Linked DNA regions of Homo sapiens. Changing the gene in region 1 together with any one later gene gives a genetic interaction. Each region holds a gene or a part of one and is shown in the gene's direction. Other genes may lie near its edges.

Region 1 (5,268 bases):
GTTTTCCAAAGTGTGGTTCAAGAACCACCTGCATCTGAATCTAGAGGTACTGGATACAACCCCACGTCTGGGCCGTTACCCAGGACATTCTACATGAGAACGTGGGGGTGGGGCCCTGGCTGCACCTGAACTGTCACCTGGAGTCAGGGTGGAAGGTGGAAGAACTGGGTCTTATTTCCTTCTCCCCTTGTTCTTTAGGGTCTGTCCTTCTGCAGACTCCGTTACCCCACCCTAACCATCCTGCACACCCTTGGAGCCCTCTGGGCCAATGCCCTGTCCCGCAAAGGGCTTCTCAGGCATCTCACCTCTATGGGAGGGCATTTTTGGCCCCCAGAACCTTACACGGTGTTTATGTGGGGAAGCCCCTGGGAAGCAGACAGTCCTAGGGTGAAGCTGAGAGGCAGAGAGAAGGGGAGACAGACAGAGGGTGGGGCTTTCCCCCTTGTCTCCAGTGCCCTTTCTGGTGACCCTCGGTTCTTTTCCCCCACCACCCCCCCAGCGGAGCCCATCGTGGTGAGGCTTAAGGAGGTCCGACTGCAGAGGGACGACTTCGAGATTCTGAAGGTGATCGGACGCGGGGCGTTCAGCGAGGTAAGCCGAACCGGGCGGGAGCCTGACTTGACTCGTGGTGGGCGGGGCATAGGGGTTGGGGCGGGGCCTTAGAAATTGATGAATGACCGAGCCTTAGAACCTAGGGCTGGGCTGGAGGCGGGGCTTGGGACCAATGGGCGTGGTGTGGCAGGTGGGGCGGGGCCACGGCTGGGTGCAGAAGCGGGTGGAGTTGGGTCTGGGCGAGCCCTTTTGTTTTCCCGCCGTCTCCACTCTGTCTCACTATCTCGACCTCAGGTAGCGGTAGTGAAGATGAAGCAGACGGGCCAGGTGTATGCCATGAAGATCATGAACAAGTGGGACATGCTGAAGAGGGGCGAGGTGAGGGGCTGGGCGGACGTGGGGGGCTTTGAGGATCCGCGCCCCGTCTCCGGCTGCAGCTCCTCCGGGTGCCCTGCAGGTGTCGTGCTTCCGTGAGGAGAGGGACGTGTTGGTGAATGGGGACCGGCGGTGGATCACGCAGCTGCACTTCGCCTTCCAGGATGAGAACTACCTGGTGAGCTCCGGGCCGGGGTGACTAGGAAGAGGGACAAGAGCCCGTGCTGTCACTGGACGAGGAGGTGGGGAGAGGAAGCTCTAGGATTGGGGGTGCTGCCCGGAAACGTCTGTGGGAAAGTCTGTGTGCGGTAAGAGGGTGTGTCAGGTGGATGAGGGGCCTTCCCTATCTGAGACGGGGATGGTGTCCTTCACTGCCCGTTTCTGGGGTGATCTGGGGGACTCTTATAAAGATGTCTCTGTTGCGGGGGGTCTCTTACCTGGAATGGGATAGGTCTTCAGGAATTCTAACGGGGCCACTGCCTAGGGAAGGAGTGTCTGGGACCTATTCTCTGGGTGTTGGGTGGCCTCTGGGTTCTCTTTCCCAGAACATCTCAGGGGGAGTGAATCTGCCCAGTGACATCCCAGGAAAGTTTTTTTGTTTGTGTTTTTTTTTGAGGGGCGGGGGCGGGGGCCGCAGGTGGTCTCTGATTTGGCCCGGCAGATCTCTATGGTTATCTCTGGGCTGGGGCTGCAGGTCTCTGCCCAAGGATGGGGTGTCTCTGGGAGGGGTTGTCCCAGCCATCCGTGATGGATCAGGGCCTCAGGGGACTACCAACCACCCATGACGAACCCCTTCTCAGTACCTGGTCATGGAGTATTACGTGGGCGGGGACCTGCTGACACTGCTGAGCAAGTTTGGGGAGCGGATTCCGGCCGAGATGGCGCGCTTCTACCTGGCGGAGATTGTCATGGCCATAGACTCGGTGCACCGGCTTGGCTACGTGCACAGGTGGGTGCAGCATGGCCGAGGGGATAGCAAGCTTGTTCCCTGGCCGGGTTCTTGGAAGGTCAGAGCCCAGAGAGGCCAGGGCCTGGAGAGGGACCTTCTTGGTTGGGGCCCACCGGGGGGTGCCTGGGAGTAGGGGTCAGAACTGTAGAAGCCCTACAGGGGCGGAACCCGAGGAAGTGGGGTCCCAGGTGGCACTGCCCGGAGGGGCGGAGCCTGGTGGGACCACAGAAGGGAGGTTCATTTATCCCACCCTTCTCTTTTCCTCCGTGCAGGGACATCAAACCCGACAACATCCTGCTGGACCGCTGTGGCCACATCCGCCTGGCCGACTTCGGCTCTTGCCTCAAGCTGCGGGCAGATGGAACGGTGAGCCAGTGCCCTGGCCACAGAGCAACTGGGGCTGCTGATGAGGGATGGAAGGCACAGAGTGTGGGAGCGGGACTGGATTTGGAGGGGAAAAGAGGTGGTGTGACCCAGGCTTAAGTGTGCATCTGTGTGGCGGAGTATTAGACCAGGCAGAGGGAGGGGCTAAGCATTTGGGGAGTGGTTGGAAGGAGGGCCCAGAGCTGGTGGGCCCAGAGGGGTGGGCCCAAGCCTCGCTCTGCTCCTTTTGGTCCAGGTGCGGTCGCTGGTGGCTGTGGGCACCCCAGACTACCTGTCCCCCGAGATCCTGCAGGCTGTGGGCGGTGGGCCTGGGACAGGCAGCTACGGGCCCGAGTGTGACTGGTGGGCGCTGGGTGTATTCGCCTATGAAATGTTCTATGGGCAGACGCCCTTCTACGCGGATTCCACGGCGGAGACCTATGGCAAGATCGTCCACTACAAGGTGAGCACGGCCGCAGGGAGACCTGGCCTCTCCCGGTAGGCGCTCCCAGGCTATCGCCTCCTCTCCCTCTGAGCAGGAGCACCTCTCTCTGCCGCTGGTGGACGAAGGGGTCCCTGAGGAGGCTCGAGACTTCATTCAGCGGTTGCTGTGTCCCCCGGAGACACGGCTGGGCCGGGGTGGAGCAGGCGACTTCCGGACACATCCCTTCTTCTTTGGCCTCGACTGGGATGGTCTCCGGGACAGCGTGCCCCCCTTTACACCGGATTTCGAAGGTGCCACCGACACATGCAACTTCGACTTGGTGGAGGACGGGCTCACTGCCATGGTGAGCGGGGGCGGGGTAGGTACCTGTGGCCCCTGCTCGGCTGCGGGAACCTCCCCATGCTCCCTCCATAAAGTTGGAGTAAGGACAGTGCCTACCTTCTGGGGTCCTGAATCACTCATTCCCCAGAGCACCTGCTCTGTGCCCATCTACTACTGAGGACCCAGCAGTGACCTAGACTTACAGTCCAGTGGGGGAACACAGAGCAGTCTTCAGACAGTAAGGCCCCAGAGTGATCAGGGCTGAGACAATGGAGTGCAGGGGGTGGGGGACTCCTGACTCAGCAAGGAAGGTCCTGGAGGGCTTTCTGGAGTGGGGAGCTATCTGAGCTGAGACTTGGAGGGATGAGAAGCAGGAGAGGACTCCTCCTCCCTTAGGCCGTCTCTCTTCACCGTGTAACAAGCTGTCATGGCATGCTTGCTCGGCTCTGGGTGCCCTTTTGCTGAACAATACTGGGGATCCAGCACGGACCAGATGAGCTCTGGTCCCTGCCCTCATCCAGTTGCAGTCTAGAGAATTAGAGAATTATGGAGAGTGTGGCAGGTGCCCTGAAGGGAAGCAACAGGATACAAGAAAAAATGATGGGGCCAGGCACGGTGGCTCACGCCTGTAACCCCAGCAATTTGGCAGGCCGAAGTGGGTGGATTGCTTGAGCCCAGGAGTTCGAGACCAGCCTGGGCAATGTGGTGAGACCCCCGTCTCTACAAAAATGTTTTAAAAATTGGTTGGGCGTGGTGGCGCATGCCTGTATACTCAGCTACTAGGGTGGCCGACGTGGGCTTGAGCCCAGGAGGTCAAGGCTGCAGTGAGCTGTGATTGTGCCACTGCACTCCAGCCTGGGCAACGGAGAGAGACTCTGTCTCAAAAATAAGATAAACTGAAATTAAAAAATAGGCTGGGCTGGCCGGGCGTGGTGGCTCACGCCTGTAATCTCAGCACTTTGGGAGGCCGAGGCGGGTGGATCACGAGGTCAGGAGATCGAGACCATCTTGGCTAACACGGTGAAACCCCATCTCTCCTAAAAATACAAAAAATTAGCCAGGCGTGGTGGCGGGCGCCTGTAGTCCCAGCTACTCAGGAGGCTGAGGCAGGAGAATGGCGTGAACCCGGGAGGCAGAGTTTGCAGTGAGCCGAGATCGTGCCACTGCACTCCAGCCTGGGCGACAGAGCGAGACTCTGTCTCAGAAAAAAAAAAAAAAAAAAAAAAAAATAGGCTGGACCGCGGCCGGGCGCTGTGGCTCATGCCTGTAATCCCAGCACTTTGGGAGTCCAAGGCCGGTGGGTCATGAGATCAGGAGTTTTGAGACTAGGCTGGCCAACACGGTGAAACCCCGTCTCTACTAAAAATACAAGAAAATTAGCTGGGTGTGGTCTCGGGTGCCTGTAATTCCAGTTACTGGGGAAGCTGAGGCAGGAGAATTGCTTGAACCTGGGAGGCAGAGTTTGCAGTGAGCCAAGATCATGCCACTACACTCCAGTCTGGGTGACAGAGTGAGACTCTGTCTCAAAAAAAAAAAAAAAAAAAAGGGTTGGGCAAGGTGGTTCACGCCTGTAATCCCAGAACTTTGGGAGGCTGAGGCAGGCAGATCACTGGAAGTCAGGAGTTCAAGACCAGCCTGGCCAACATGGTGAAACCCTGTGTCTACTAAAAATACAAAATTTAGCCAGGCTTGGTGGCGTATGCCTGTAATGCCAGCTACTCAGGAGGCTGAGGCAGGAGAATCGCTTGATTGAACCTGGGAGGCAGAGTTTGCAGTGGGCTGGGGTTGTGCCACTGCACTCTAGGCTGGGAGACAGCAAGACTCCATCTAAAAAAAAAAAACAGAACTGGGCTGGGCACAGTGGCTTATATTTGTAATCCCAGCACTTTGGGAGGCTGAGGTTGGAGGACTGCTTGAGCCCAGAGTTTGGGACTACAACAGCTGAGGTAGGCGGATCACTTGAGGTCAGAAGATGGAGACCAGCCTGGCCAGCGTGGCGAAACCCCGTCTCTACCAAAAATATAAAAAATTAGCCAGGCGTGGTAGAGGGCGCCTGTAATCTCAGCTACTCAGGACGCTGAGGCAGGAGAATCGCCTGAACCTGGGAGGCGGAGGTTGCAGTGAGCTGAGATTGCACCACTGCACTCCAGCCTGGGTAACAGAGCGAGACTCCGTATCAAAGAAAAAGAAAAAAGAAAAAATGCTGGAGGGGCCACTTTAGATAAGCCCTGAGTTGGGGCTGGTTTGGGGGGAACATGTAAGC
Region 2 (3,236 bases), on another chromosome or scaffold:
TGACCTCAGGTGATCCACCCGCCTCGGCCTCCCAAAGTGCTGGGATTACAGGTGTGAACCACCGCACCTGGCCCAAAGCATCTTGAAAAGTATTCTCTTTCTTTAATATAATGCCCTGCCATTCTTACCTAGTGAGAATATAGAACCTAAGTTTTACCTTACTGGGGAAGAAGCTCATATAATCATATGCAGAACATCCAAGGGAGAGTTAACTATTCCTATCTTTATCTTTTTTCCTGTAGCTTCATAAACAAGCAGATATGCAAGAAGAGAAAAACCGAATCGAAAGAGTCCTTGGCGCTACTCTTTTGCCTGACCTGATTCAAAAAGTCCTCACGTTTGCACTTTCAGTAAGTTACGGTGAAAACTGCATTTAGAAGTGAATCGTTACCCATCTCTGAGAAGTGTCTCTGATTCAGCTCTGATCCTCTTGAGCTGCCTTAACCCTAACTAAAGCTTCCTTTTCCAGAGTAACTGGCTTGAGTTTTTGTTACTGACTTCTGTTTTTCTCCCACTAGTGGCGAGAATCAGAATAGTTGGGAGAGTAAACAAATTGTCTCTCCAGAATGGAAACTATGAGGACAGGGACTCTTGAAAACTGGGAAACTGGCTTATGCCTTTGCTTACTTTGTGTCTCTTCCTTTCTTAAACCTATAGGCTCCTAAGCAAGTATCTGTTGAGCAGTCTGTCTGTCTGAACCTGTCTCAGTACCTCATTCTCATTTTGGTTATCTTTAGCTTAAACATTATCTTCTTTGCTGAGAACTTCTGGTTCCAGTTATTCCTAAAACAAGGAATAAGTGTCTTCAGTGTGATTACTTCAGTGTCACAGTATGGTGCACTTTCTGGTACCAGAATATGTTTTTGATACACTAGACTTTTAGCTCTCTTTCTTTTTTTAGGAAGAGGTACGTCCACAGGACACTGTATCGGTAATTGGTGGAGTAGCTGGAGGCAGCAAGCATGGTAGGAAAGCTGCTTGGAAATTCATAAAGGACAACTGGGAAGAACTTTATAACCGATACCAGGGAGGATTCTTAATATCCAGACTAATAAAGGTATGTGAAAAACTTTGAGTAGCTTGCTAATCATGGATATTATTTAGTGACATCCATGATTCACTACACCCATACATTGTGGTCTTTGCTCTTTAAATGTTTCCTGTGGCCAGGTGCAGTGGCTCACGCCTGTAATACCAGCACTTTGGGACGCCGAGGTGGGCAGATCACCTGAGGTCGGGAGTTCGAGACTATCCTGGCCAACATGGTGAAATCCTGTCCCTACTAAAAATACAAAAATTAGCTGAGCGTGGTGGTGTGTGCCTGTAATCCCAGCTACTTGGGAGGCTGAGGCAGGAGAATCGCTTGAACCTGGGAGGCAGAGGTTGTGGTGAGCCGAGATGAGGTCATTGCACTCCAGCCTGGGCAACAAGTGTGAAACTCCGTCTCAAAAAAAAAAAAGTTTCCTTAAATAGTTACTGGCTTTATTTAAGGACTTCTCCATCTCCCATCACACATCCTTTATAACAGACTGAAGTTGGCAGAGAACAGAATGATTTATTTTTAGGGTAAATGGAAGTTTGTTCTCAGCCTCTTGGTTTCACTTACTGTTTAAAACCATTGTTTTGCAGCTATCAGTTGAGGGATTTGCAGTTGATAAAATGGCTGGAGAGGTTAAGGTAAGGAAAATACTGTTTACTCTTCACTTTTCAGTCTAGTAAGTAAAAACAATAACCTGGTTGTAATTATAGTGTTGGGATAATGTACTGTAGCATCTCTGTGTTTTTGTTTAGAGAAAGACATCATGCAGGGCTGTATAGGCCATATTAAGAATTTCCTAAAAATGGCCAGGCATGGTAGCTCACATCTGTAATCTCAGCACTTTGGGAGGCCGAGGTGGGTGGATCACCTGAGGTCAGGACTTCAAGACCAGCCCGGGCAACATGGTGAAACCCCAAATTAGCTGGACATGGTGGTGCACGCCTCTAATCCCAGCTACTCGGGAGGCTGAGGCAGGAGAATTGCTTGAGCCCGGGAGGTGGAGGTTGCAGTGAGCTGAGATCGTGCCATTGCACTCCAGCCTGGGTGACAGAGCGAGACTCCTGTCTCAAAAAAAAAAAAAAAAAAAAAAGTCCTAAAAATGGAAAGCCTTCGAATGGTTTATAAACAAGGCAGTGCCTTGATCTGATTTGTGTTATAAAAATTTCAGTCTGGCTGCAATGTGGATAATAGTTTGGAATGGGGAAGAGAAGATGTTGGGAAGCTAACTCTCCTAGCAAGAATGATAGAATAGCTTACAGTAGGGTAGTGGCAGTAGTGGAGGAGATGGAATAATGGAGATTCAGGGGCTTGAATTTGTTAACCATTTAGTTCAACAATATTTATTGATTGGCTTCTCTGTTGTGAGCATATCTGGGAGAGGAAGAAAAACAAGCCAGGATAATCCCCAGGTTTCTGGTGTATAAATGTTGGTACTACTCTGCGATGGAATGGAAAAAGACTTGAGGCCCTGAGAACTGAACCATGATTAGGAGCCTTGGAACAGTAGCAATTGTCATCTGTGTAAATAAGGTTATTGATTTCTAAAAGGTCTATGTTTAATCAGATGGATTAGTCATTCTGTCTTTCACACCTGTGGTGACTAATTCAAAGGAAAAGCCCTATCATTTTGCCAGCTGGTGTTTAAGAGTTGCTTTGTTTTCTGTGAAACCAGGTGTACTGCATTAGAAAAGTTTATTCAACTTTTAATCATTAAGCATTGTGATAAATTGTAAACTTAGAAATTGTTTGGTTTACTGTATTAAAAATGTTGGATTCCTGTAATTCCAGCATTTTGGGAGGCTGAGGTGGGAGGATTGCTTGAGTTCAAGAGTTCAAGACCAGTCTGGGCAACATGGTAGGACCCCATCTCTACAAAAAGGAAAAAACAATTTGGCCTGGGAGTGCACGCTTGTGGTCCCAGCTACCCAGGAAGTTAAGGTGGGAGGTTTACTTGAGCCCAGAAGGTTGAGGCTGTGATGAGCCATGATCGTTTCATTGCACTCTAGCCTGGGCAACAGAGTGAGACCCTGTCTCAAAAAAAAAAAAAAAAAAAAGACCATGGGGTGTTAAATTATTAGGGCATAGCAGCAATTTAAACTTCTTTGTATTATCATCCCTTACAAATTAATCTTTATTTGAAGCAGCCAAAATGTGTTGAATCCTTAAGTACTCTGTGCTAGGTATTTTGTCAAATGTT
Region 3 (3,902 bases), on another chromosome or scaffold:
AAGAATATTTTCCAGAGTGTTTTTGTTTTATAAATATTTCATTTTTAGCATGAGTAAAAGCAACAGTATTTTTGATAGCGAATATAGTTTGGTTGATTTGATCATCTTTGTATTAGGGATAAAACTTGCCATATAAGTACAAATAAAAATACTTTATAAATTTTGTCTGCAGTGAAGATTGGCAAATGTCTGGGTCAGGATCTCCATCTCAGTCTGGTTCAGATTCAGAATCTGAAGAAGAGAGAGAGAAAAGCAGTTGTGATGAAACAGAATCTGATTATGAGCCAAAAAACAAAGTCAAAAGCAGAAAACCTCAAAATAGGTATGGTCTCAGTTTGGTGCTGAAAATTGATTGTGGAAAGTATTTGTTCTTTTTGTATATAGTTTCTCAAATCTTGTTTTTTTTTCTCTTTGCACTTTCCTAGATCTAAGTCAAAAAATGGAAAGAAGATTCTTGGACAAAAAAAGAGACAGATTGATTCATCTGAGGAGGATGATGATGAAGAAGATTATGATAATGATAAAAGAAGTTCTCGTCGCCAAGCAACTGTTAATGTTAGCTATAAGGAGGATGAAGAAATGAAAACAGATTCTGATGACCTACTGGAAGTCTGTGGAGAGGATGTTCCTCAACCTGAGGAAGAGGAATTTGAAACCATAGAAAGATTTATGGATTGTCGGATTGGGAGAAAAGGAGGTAGTTTTTAAAAAACCATTTATTGTTTGGTTATTTAAATAATATTTACAGGAGTAGAGGGCTGGGCACAGTGGGTCGCCCCTGTAATCCCAGTACTTTGGGGGGCCGAGGCCGATGGATCAGGAGTTCTAGACCTGAGGTCAGGAGTTCTAGACCAGCCTGGCCAACGTGGCAAAACCCCATCTCTACTAAAAATAGAAAAGATTAGCTAGGTGAGGTGGTGCGCACCTGTAGTCCCAGCTACTTGGGAAGCCGAGGCAAGGGAATTGCTTGAACCCACGAGGCTGAGGTTGCAGTGAGCTGAGATTGCACGACTGCACTCCAGCCTGGGTGACAGAGCGAAACTCCATCTCAAAAAAAAAAAAAAAAGGTAAAGTATTTAAGATTTTTCTACAGTGTTGAAAGCTAAGAGGGTGGATTTTTTGTTGTTGTTGTTTTACTTATGTTTTATAAAAGCTACTTTGCTTAGCCTGAGTACCTTCTTAATAACCACCTGACCACATTTCTTTTTTCTTTTTTTTTTTTTTTTGTGACAGAATCTCGTTCTGTTGTCCAGGCTGGAGTGCAGTGGCACGGTCTCAGCTCACTGCAAGCTCCGCCTCCCAGGTTCACGCCATTCTCCTGCCTCAGCCTCCCGAGTAGCTGGGACTACAGGTGCCTGCCAGGACACCTGGCTGATTTTTTGTATTTTTAGCAGAGATGGGGTTTCACCGTGTTAGCCAGGATGGTCTTGATCTCCTGACCTCGTGATCCGCCCGCCTCGGCCTCCCAAATTGCTGGGATTACAGGCGTGAGCCACCGTGCTGGGCCTCCAGCTGACCACGTTTCATATATTGTGGATAATTATAGAATAATGCTGTGGGATCTCAGGTGGATCTCTGTCTTTTTATTTTTTCTAATTCGAAAAAGGAGGGGATTATATTAGATAATTCTGAAATTCTCAGTTTTATTTATGAGCAATAGAATTTCCCATAAGTTTCTATACCCCCAATACTTTATTTAAAAGAGTATATATTTTTGTACTCATATTATTGAAATTTTGAGTTGAAATATAATCCTACAACAGAATTAATTACATGGAAGGATCTTGTGCTTTTGTTTTCAGCTACTGGTGCTACTACAACCATCTATGCAGTTGAAGCAGATGGTGACCCAAATGCAGGCTTTGAAAAAAACAAAGAACCAGGAGAGATTCAGTATTTAATTAAATGGAAAGGATGGTCCCATATCCACAACACTTGGGAGACAGAAGAAACCCTCAAGCAGCAGAATGTTAGAGGAATGAAAAAATTGGATAATTATAAGAAAAAAGATCAGGAAACAAAAAGATGGTAAGTATGCTGTATATCATATACTTCTTTTAATAGTTCAAAGATTACTAAACCTTTATGTTAATAAAGAATACATAGTAACATTAAATGATAGCCTAAAATAGCTATAGACTTTATAATACAGTTGGCTGTCTTTGTCCACAGCTTCTCTATCCTTGGTTTCAACCAACCATGGATTGAAAGTATTCGGAGGGAAAAAAAACAACAATAACACAAATTAAAAACAATACCATGTAACAACTATTTGCACTGCATTTACGTTGTAAATGTAAAATTGGGTATTATAAGAACATCTAGAGATGATTTAAAGTATGGGGGAGGATGTGTGTGGGTTATATTTTAGGTACCATGTCATTTCATATAAGGGACTTGAGCATCCTCAGATTCTGGTATCTGTAGAGGATCCTCAACCAATCCCCTGCAGGTAGTGAGGGATGATTTTATTCCATCTCAAGGTAAAACTCCTAGAGGTATACCTATCTAAACCTATCCTTGGTAACAGTCACATAGAGTGTGTCTCATACATTATAAATTACAAATTTTTAGTTAAAAATTAATGATGCTTTATTCCTGTTTGAGTTTCTTTATTACTCAAACTTGGCCCACACAGTGGCAAAATGGGAGATTTTGTGCTACAAATAGTGTTGGGGATGGGGGAGTGAAAGGTTATTTATGGGAGATTTTTAAGTCTATTCCTGGATTAATAATTTTTCAGGTTGAAAAATGCCTCTCCAGAAGATGTGGAATATTATAATTGCCAGCAAGAACTTACAGATGATCTACATAAACAGTATCAAATAGTGGAACGTATAATTGGTTAGTGATAAATGATTCTAGTTAAACTTTCTTTTTATGCTTGAAATAATCTGAAAAAAGTCATAAGTTTGCCACTTACATATCAAACACAGTAGCTTGCTCTTACTAAAACAGTATTGTAAACTAGATAGCTAAATTTTACTTGTGTAGCCTTTACTAAGAATTATGTATCTGATGATTAAATGTAAAAAAAAATAAATAAATAAGTAAATGCCTGATTCTCTCACAGCTCATTCCAATCAAAAGTCAGCAGCTGGTTATCCTGATTATTACTGCAAATGGCAGGGCCTTCCATACTCAGAGTGCAGCTGGGAAGATGGAGCTCTCATTTCCAAAAAGTTTCAAGCATGCATTGATGAGTATTTTAGCAGGAACCAATCAAAAACCACTCCTTTTAAAGATTGCAAAGTGAGTATTGTCTAACATTTTAAATTATTAAAAATATATTTATACATTATAAATATTTACAAGCCTAAATACAAGAGTTGGATCCTGATTTCAGATAGACTAAGGGAGAATATTTCTTGGTTAATAGGTCTTACAGGAAGTGAACTTCTGCAATTGCTGTGTGTTTTTTAGTTTTAGTTTTATAATTTTTTATTTCAAACTTTCTCTTAAAAAAATTGTAAATGATGTTTTCGTCAATGTATCTTCTTAAGTGTTGTCTTTTATCTTGTTGAGCATCACTATGTCAGAAAGATGAGTTGGTTATGGTGATTGTCAGGAAGGGTTGGGAGAATAAACAGAAAAAAACCCTTGGAAACTAGAGATATGCTCAATTTTAAAGATAGTGGATATTTTCTTAGAAGGTAGAGAAAAAGGAGAGTGATATAGGAAAGTATCCAGAACTACCTTGCACAATACTTTCTGCATCCTTGTAACTTACCCAGAGTTACTAGTGATGTGTTGAGATCTATGGACTACTAGACTTTCTTTCCTTATTACAAGAATTACATTCTTCATAGGGATAACTTGGAATTCAGAAATTGAACGGTAAGCTAAGCCAGTTTTATGGTTTGTAGCTTAAGGCTGGAGTGATGGTTTTGAACAATTTAACG
Region 4 (3,902 bases), on another chromosome or scaffold:
GGAGGGAAAACATTTCAAGCAGAAGTAACAACCAGTGCAAAGGCCCTGGGGCAAGAGCGGAAACAGAGACCTAGAGAGAAACAAAGACACATAGAGATCGAACCACAGAAACGTGTCATTGGCAACGTGGACAGATGGTGAACCACAGACAGGGAGACAAGAGGGAGCTAAGGCAGAGCCCTCTAGGGTGGGATAGGGAGACCTTCTGACAGCCCCACTCCTTGCAGTGAAACTGGAGCCCCCCATGCTGCGGACCATGGACCCCAGCCCTGAAGCGGCCCCTCCCCAGGCAGGCTGCCTACAGCTGTGCTGGGAGCCATGGCAGCCAGGCCTGCACATAAATCAGAAGTGTGAGCTGCGCCACAAGCCGCAGCGTGGAGAAGCCAGCTGGGCACTGGTGAGGCAGAGGGCAACCTGGAGAGCCTGAGGTGGTGGGGGCAGGGGGCAGGGTAAGTCGGGCTCGAGCTGGCCCTAGAATGGCCCAGCGATCCAAGGCTCAGAGTCCTGTCCACCCCTCACCAGGTGGGCCCCCTCCCCTTGGAGGCCCTTCAGTATGAGCTCTGCGGGCTCCTCCCAGCCACGGCCTACACCCTGCAGATACGCTGCATCCGCTGGCCCCTGCCTGGCCACTGGAGCGACTGGAGCCCCAGCCTGGAGCTGAGAACTACCGAACGGGGTAAGGAGGTGATGAGAGGCTGGGAGCAGCCAACAGTATCCAGTCCAGGCCCCAGGCCCCTCCCCAACTGGCACCCCCTCTTCTTGTTCCATCCACAGCCCCCACTGTCAGACTGGACACATGGTGGCGGCAGAGGCAGCTGGACCCCAGGACAGTGCAGCTGTTCTGGAAGGTGACTCCCTCTGAAGGCCATCCCTCCACCTCGACACCTCCCGCAGTCCAAACAGATCCCTACAAACCGGGGCTTAGGACTCCAACAGGTCTGGGAGGCGTGGACGCATTTATATGTGATTTGCATGCACTTTGCATGTGCCTAGGGAGCTGAGTTAGCTTTTGGACAGACTGTAACGCACGTCACAGTGTGGTTCAGTGAATAGTTAAGAGCCTGCTGTGTCCACCAACTTGTTTCTTCCTGCCCTCCTTCCTAGAACCTAGCACAAGGGAACAGAGGGAAAAGGGGAGGGGGGTGAGAAGCCTGGACCCCAGCCTGGGGAGGCTCCGTTTGTATGATCCATCCACCCCACCTAGAGGCTCTCCTTGACTCAAGATGAGCTGCACATCCCCTTCTCTTTTTCCTCCTGTGCCCCACAGCCAGTGCCCCTGGAGGAAGACAGCGGACGGATCCAAGGTTATGTGGTTTCTTGGAGACCCTCAGGCCAGGCTGGGGCCATCCTGCCCCTCTGCAACACCACAGAGCTCAGCTGCACCTTCCACCTGCCTTCAGAAGCCCAGGAGGTGGCCCTTGTGGCCTATAACTCAGCCGGGACCTCTCGTCCCACTCCGGTGGTCTTCTCAGAAAGCAGAGGTAAAGGGGGCTGGCAGCCAGAAGAGCACAGAGGTCAAGCGCATCAATTCAAAGGCTAGACTGCCTGGGTTAAATCTAGTCCTATTGGCCGGGCGCAGTGGCTCACGCCTGTAATCCCAGCACTTTGGGAGGCCGAGGTGGGCAGATCATCCGAGGTCAGGAGTTCAAGACCAGCCTGGCCTACATGGTGAAACCCCTGTCTCTACTAAAAATACAAAAATTAGCCAGGCATAGTGGCGGGCACCTGTAATCCCAGCTACTCCGGAGGCTGAGGCAGGAGAATTGCTTGAACCTGGGAGGCAGAGGTTGCAGCAAGCTGAGATCACGCCATTACACTCTAGCCTGGGCAACAGAGGGAGACTCCATCTCAAAAAAACAAAAAAAAACAAAAAACGAGTCCTATCACTTGCTAACAGTGTGACCTGAGTAAGTTACCTCCCATCCCCGGCCTCTGTTTACACATCCAGCAGATGGGGATGATAACAGCACCTACTGAGCGGTGCCATGGGGTGTACATGAGTTAAGACAAGTGCCTGGCACAAAGTAACTGCTCTGCATGTGTCTGCTGTTGTTATTATCATTAGCCAGACCAGGTTAAGCTCTCTCTCTCACACACACACACACTCACAGCCCATTCTGCCAAGAAAGCCAAGAGAGAAAGCCCCAGGCTTTTCCACTTGGAACCTGGTCTATGAGTTCATTGCTCATTCTCAGGAAATCAGCTGCCACCACCCACTGCTTTCCCTAAACATTGGTCCTCGCAAGGTGGGACTAATAATCACAATAACAATAATCATAGCTAATATTCCCACTTACTAGCTGTGTGATCTTAGACAAGTTTCTTAACCTCTCTGTGTCTCTCAGTTTTCTCATTAGTAAAATGGGGAAAAGAGTAGTACTTCCTGGGTATGACTATTAGAGGACTCAGTGAATTAAAATGTATCAAGGAGTCCAGTATGGTGGCTCACGCCTGTAATCCCAGCACTTTGGGAGGCTGAGGCGGGCGGATCATCTGAGGTCAGGAGGTCAAGACCAGCCTGGCCAACATAGTGAAACCCCATCTCTACTACAAATACAAAAATTAGCCGGGCATGGTGGCGGTTGCCTGTAATCCCAGCTAGTCGGGAGGCTGCGGCAGGAGAATCACTTGAGCCTGGGAGGTGGAGGTTGCAATGAGCCGAGATGGCGCCACTGCACTCCAGCCTGGGCGACAGAGCAAGTCTCTGCATAAAAAATAAAATAAAGTAAGGTAAAGTAAAGTAAAATAAAATAAAATATATCAAGGACTACGCCTGACACATACCAAGAACAATAGAGTGTTAGCTGTTATCACTAACAAGAACTACTCCATGCCAGGCGCTATGCCAGGCTTGTTTCGTGCATCAAGTCATTTAATCTGCACTAAGACCCTATGAGTTAGGAACTTTTATCATCATTTCTACTTTACAGATGAGGAAACTGAGGCTAAGATGTTGACCTACCAAAGGTCACCCAGCCTGTAAATAGCAAAGCCAGGATTTGAACCCAGGCTTCTGGCTCAAGGGCCTGCATTCTTTTCACCTTCATTCCACCATTTCCCACCCTGTCTCCAGGCCCAGCTCTGACCAGACTCCATGCCATGGCCCGAGACCCTCACAGCCTCTGGGTAGGCTGGGAGCCCCCCAATCCATGGCCTCAGGGCTATGTGATTGAGTGGGGCCTGGGCCCCCCCAGCGCGAGCAATAGCAACAAGACCTGGAGGATGGAACAGAATGGGAGAGCCACGGGGTTTCTGCTGAAGGGTGAGGCTGGCCTGGAAAGTTGGGCAGGGCCAGGGACAAAGGGAGGCAGTGCTTATCTGACAATAGGCATGGGACAACCTGAACTGCCCAAGAGACATGGATTCTCCAGCCTTTCTTGATCCTTCGTTGTTCTCATTTCATATCCTCATAATCAGGAAGTTCTTCCTACAGTCTAACCTGATCCTTTTTCTATAGCCCTGACTCTGCCACCCTTCTAGCTCTCTCTTCCACTTTTCTTCCCTAATTCTCATCAAATGATCTAAAGAAGATATTGTGGAGGTTAACCCTGAATCATGAGGCCAGGTTAGCCCTCACTAGAGGTCTGAGGCTAGCTCCTGATCATTAGCACAGGTTAGGCCCTAACAGAAGTGCCTACCCCATTTTCTCTCTACAGAGAACATCAGGCCCTTTCAGCTCTATGAGATCATCGTGACTCCCTTGTACCAGGACACCATGGGACCCTCCCAGCATGTCTATGCCTACTCTCAAGAAATGGGTTTGTCAACTATCAGGCCCCTTTCCAGAATCCTCTCCTCTCTCTCCCAAGGCTCTGCCTGGTCCCCAGCAATCAGAAGTATAGGGAACATTGCCTTCCTACCATACTTCCAGCCCTGGAGAGGATCTCTCCCAATCCCCTGGC

The links.
Region 2: changes in DMPK (region 1) and NPEPPS together harm fitness more than expected from each alone (negative genetic interaction), as found in Homo sapiens cells (one large-scale study listed by BioGRID).
Region 3: changes in DMPK (region 1) and CHD1 together harm fitness more than expected from each alone (negative genetic interaction), as found in Homo sapiens cells (one large-scale study listed by BioGRID).
Region 4: changes in DMPK (region 1) and CSF3R together harm fitness more than expected from each alone (negative genetic interaction), as found in Homo sapiens cells (one large-scale study listed by BioGRID).

Annotation. Positions count from the first base shown.
Region 1 is NC_000019.10:45,775,101-45,780,368, reverse strand, and holds part of DMPK (myotonin-protein kinase), read left to right. Parts: coding exon of another isoform or gene 1-46; exon of another isoform or gene 47-309; coding exon of another isoform or gene 310-499; coding exon 500-591; intron 592-749; exon of another isoform or gene 750-846; coding exon 847-930; intron 931-1,009; coding exon 1,010-1,105; exon of another isoform or gene 1,106-1,235; intron 1,236-1,727; coding exon 1,728-1,876; intron 1,877-2,148; coding exon 2,149-2,242; intron 2,243-2,495; coding exon 2,496-2,702; intron 2,703-2,778; coding exon 2,779-3,042; intron 3,043-5,268. UniProt on the Homo sapiens protein: Non-receptor serine/threonine protein kinase which is necessary for the maintenance of skeletal muscle structure and function.
Region 2 is NC_000017.11:47,618,108-47,621,343, forward strand, and holds part of NPEPPS (puromycin-sensitive aminopeptidase), read left to right. Parts: intron 1-242; coding exon 243-350; intron 351-901; coding exon 902-1,057; intron 1,058-1,170; coding exon of another isoform or gene 1,171-1,265; intron 1,266-1,629; coding exon 1,630-1,677; intron 1,678-3,236. UniProt on the Homo sapiens protein: Aminopeptidase with broad substrate specificity for several peptides. Involved in proteolytic events essential for cell growth and viability. May act as regulator of neuropeptide activity.
Region 3 is NC_000005.10:98,897,606-98,901,507, reverse strand, and holds part of CHD1 (chromodomain-helicase-DNA-binding protein 1), read left to right. Parts: intron 1-172; coding exon 173-322; intron 323-425; coding exon 426-697; intron 698-1,802; coding exon 1,803-2,028; intron 2,029-2,743; coding exon 2,744-2,844; intron 2,845-3,073; coding exon 3,074-3,252; intron 3,253-3,902. UniProt on the Homo sapiens protein: ATP-dependent chromatin-remodeling factor which functions as substrate recognition component of the transcription regulatory histone acetylation (HAT) complex SAGA. Regulates polymerase II transcription.
Region 4 is NC_000001.11:36,469,012-36,472,913, reverse strand, and holds part of CSF3R (granulocyte colony-stimulating factor receptor isoform a precursor), read left to right. Parts: intron 1-227; coding exon 228-397; intron 398-522; coding exon 523-676; intron 677-774; coding exon 775-848; intron 849-1,267; coding exon 1,268-1,481; intron 1,482-3,073; coding exon 3,074-3,262; intron 3,263-3,656; coding exon 3,657-3,758; intron 3,759-3,902. UniProt on the Homo sapiens protein: Receptor for granulocyte colony-stimulating factor (CSF3), essential for granulocytic maturation. Plays a crucial role in the proliferation, differentiation and survival of cells along the neutrophilic lineage.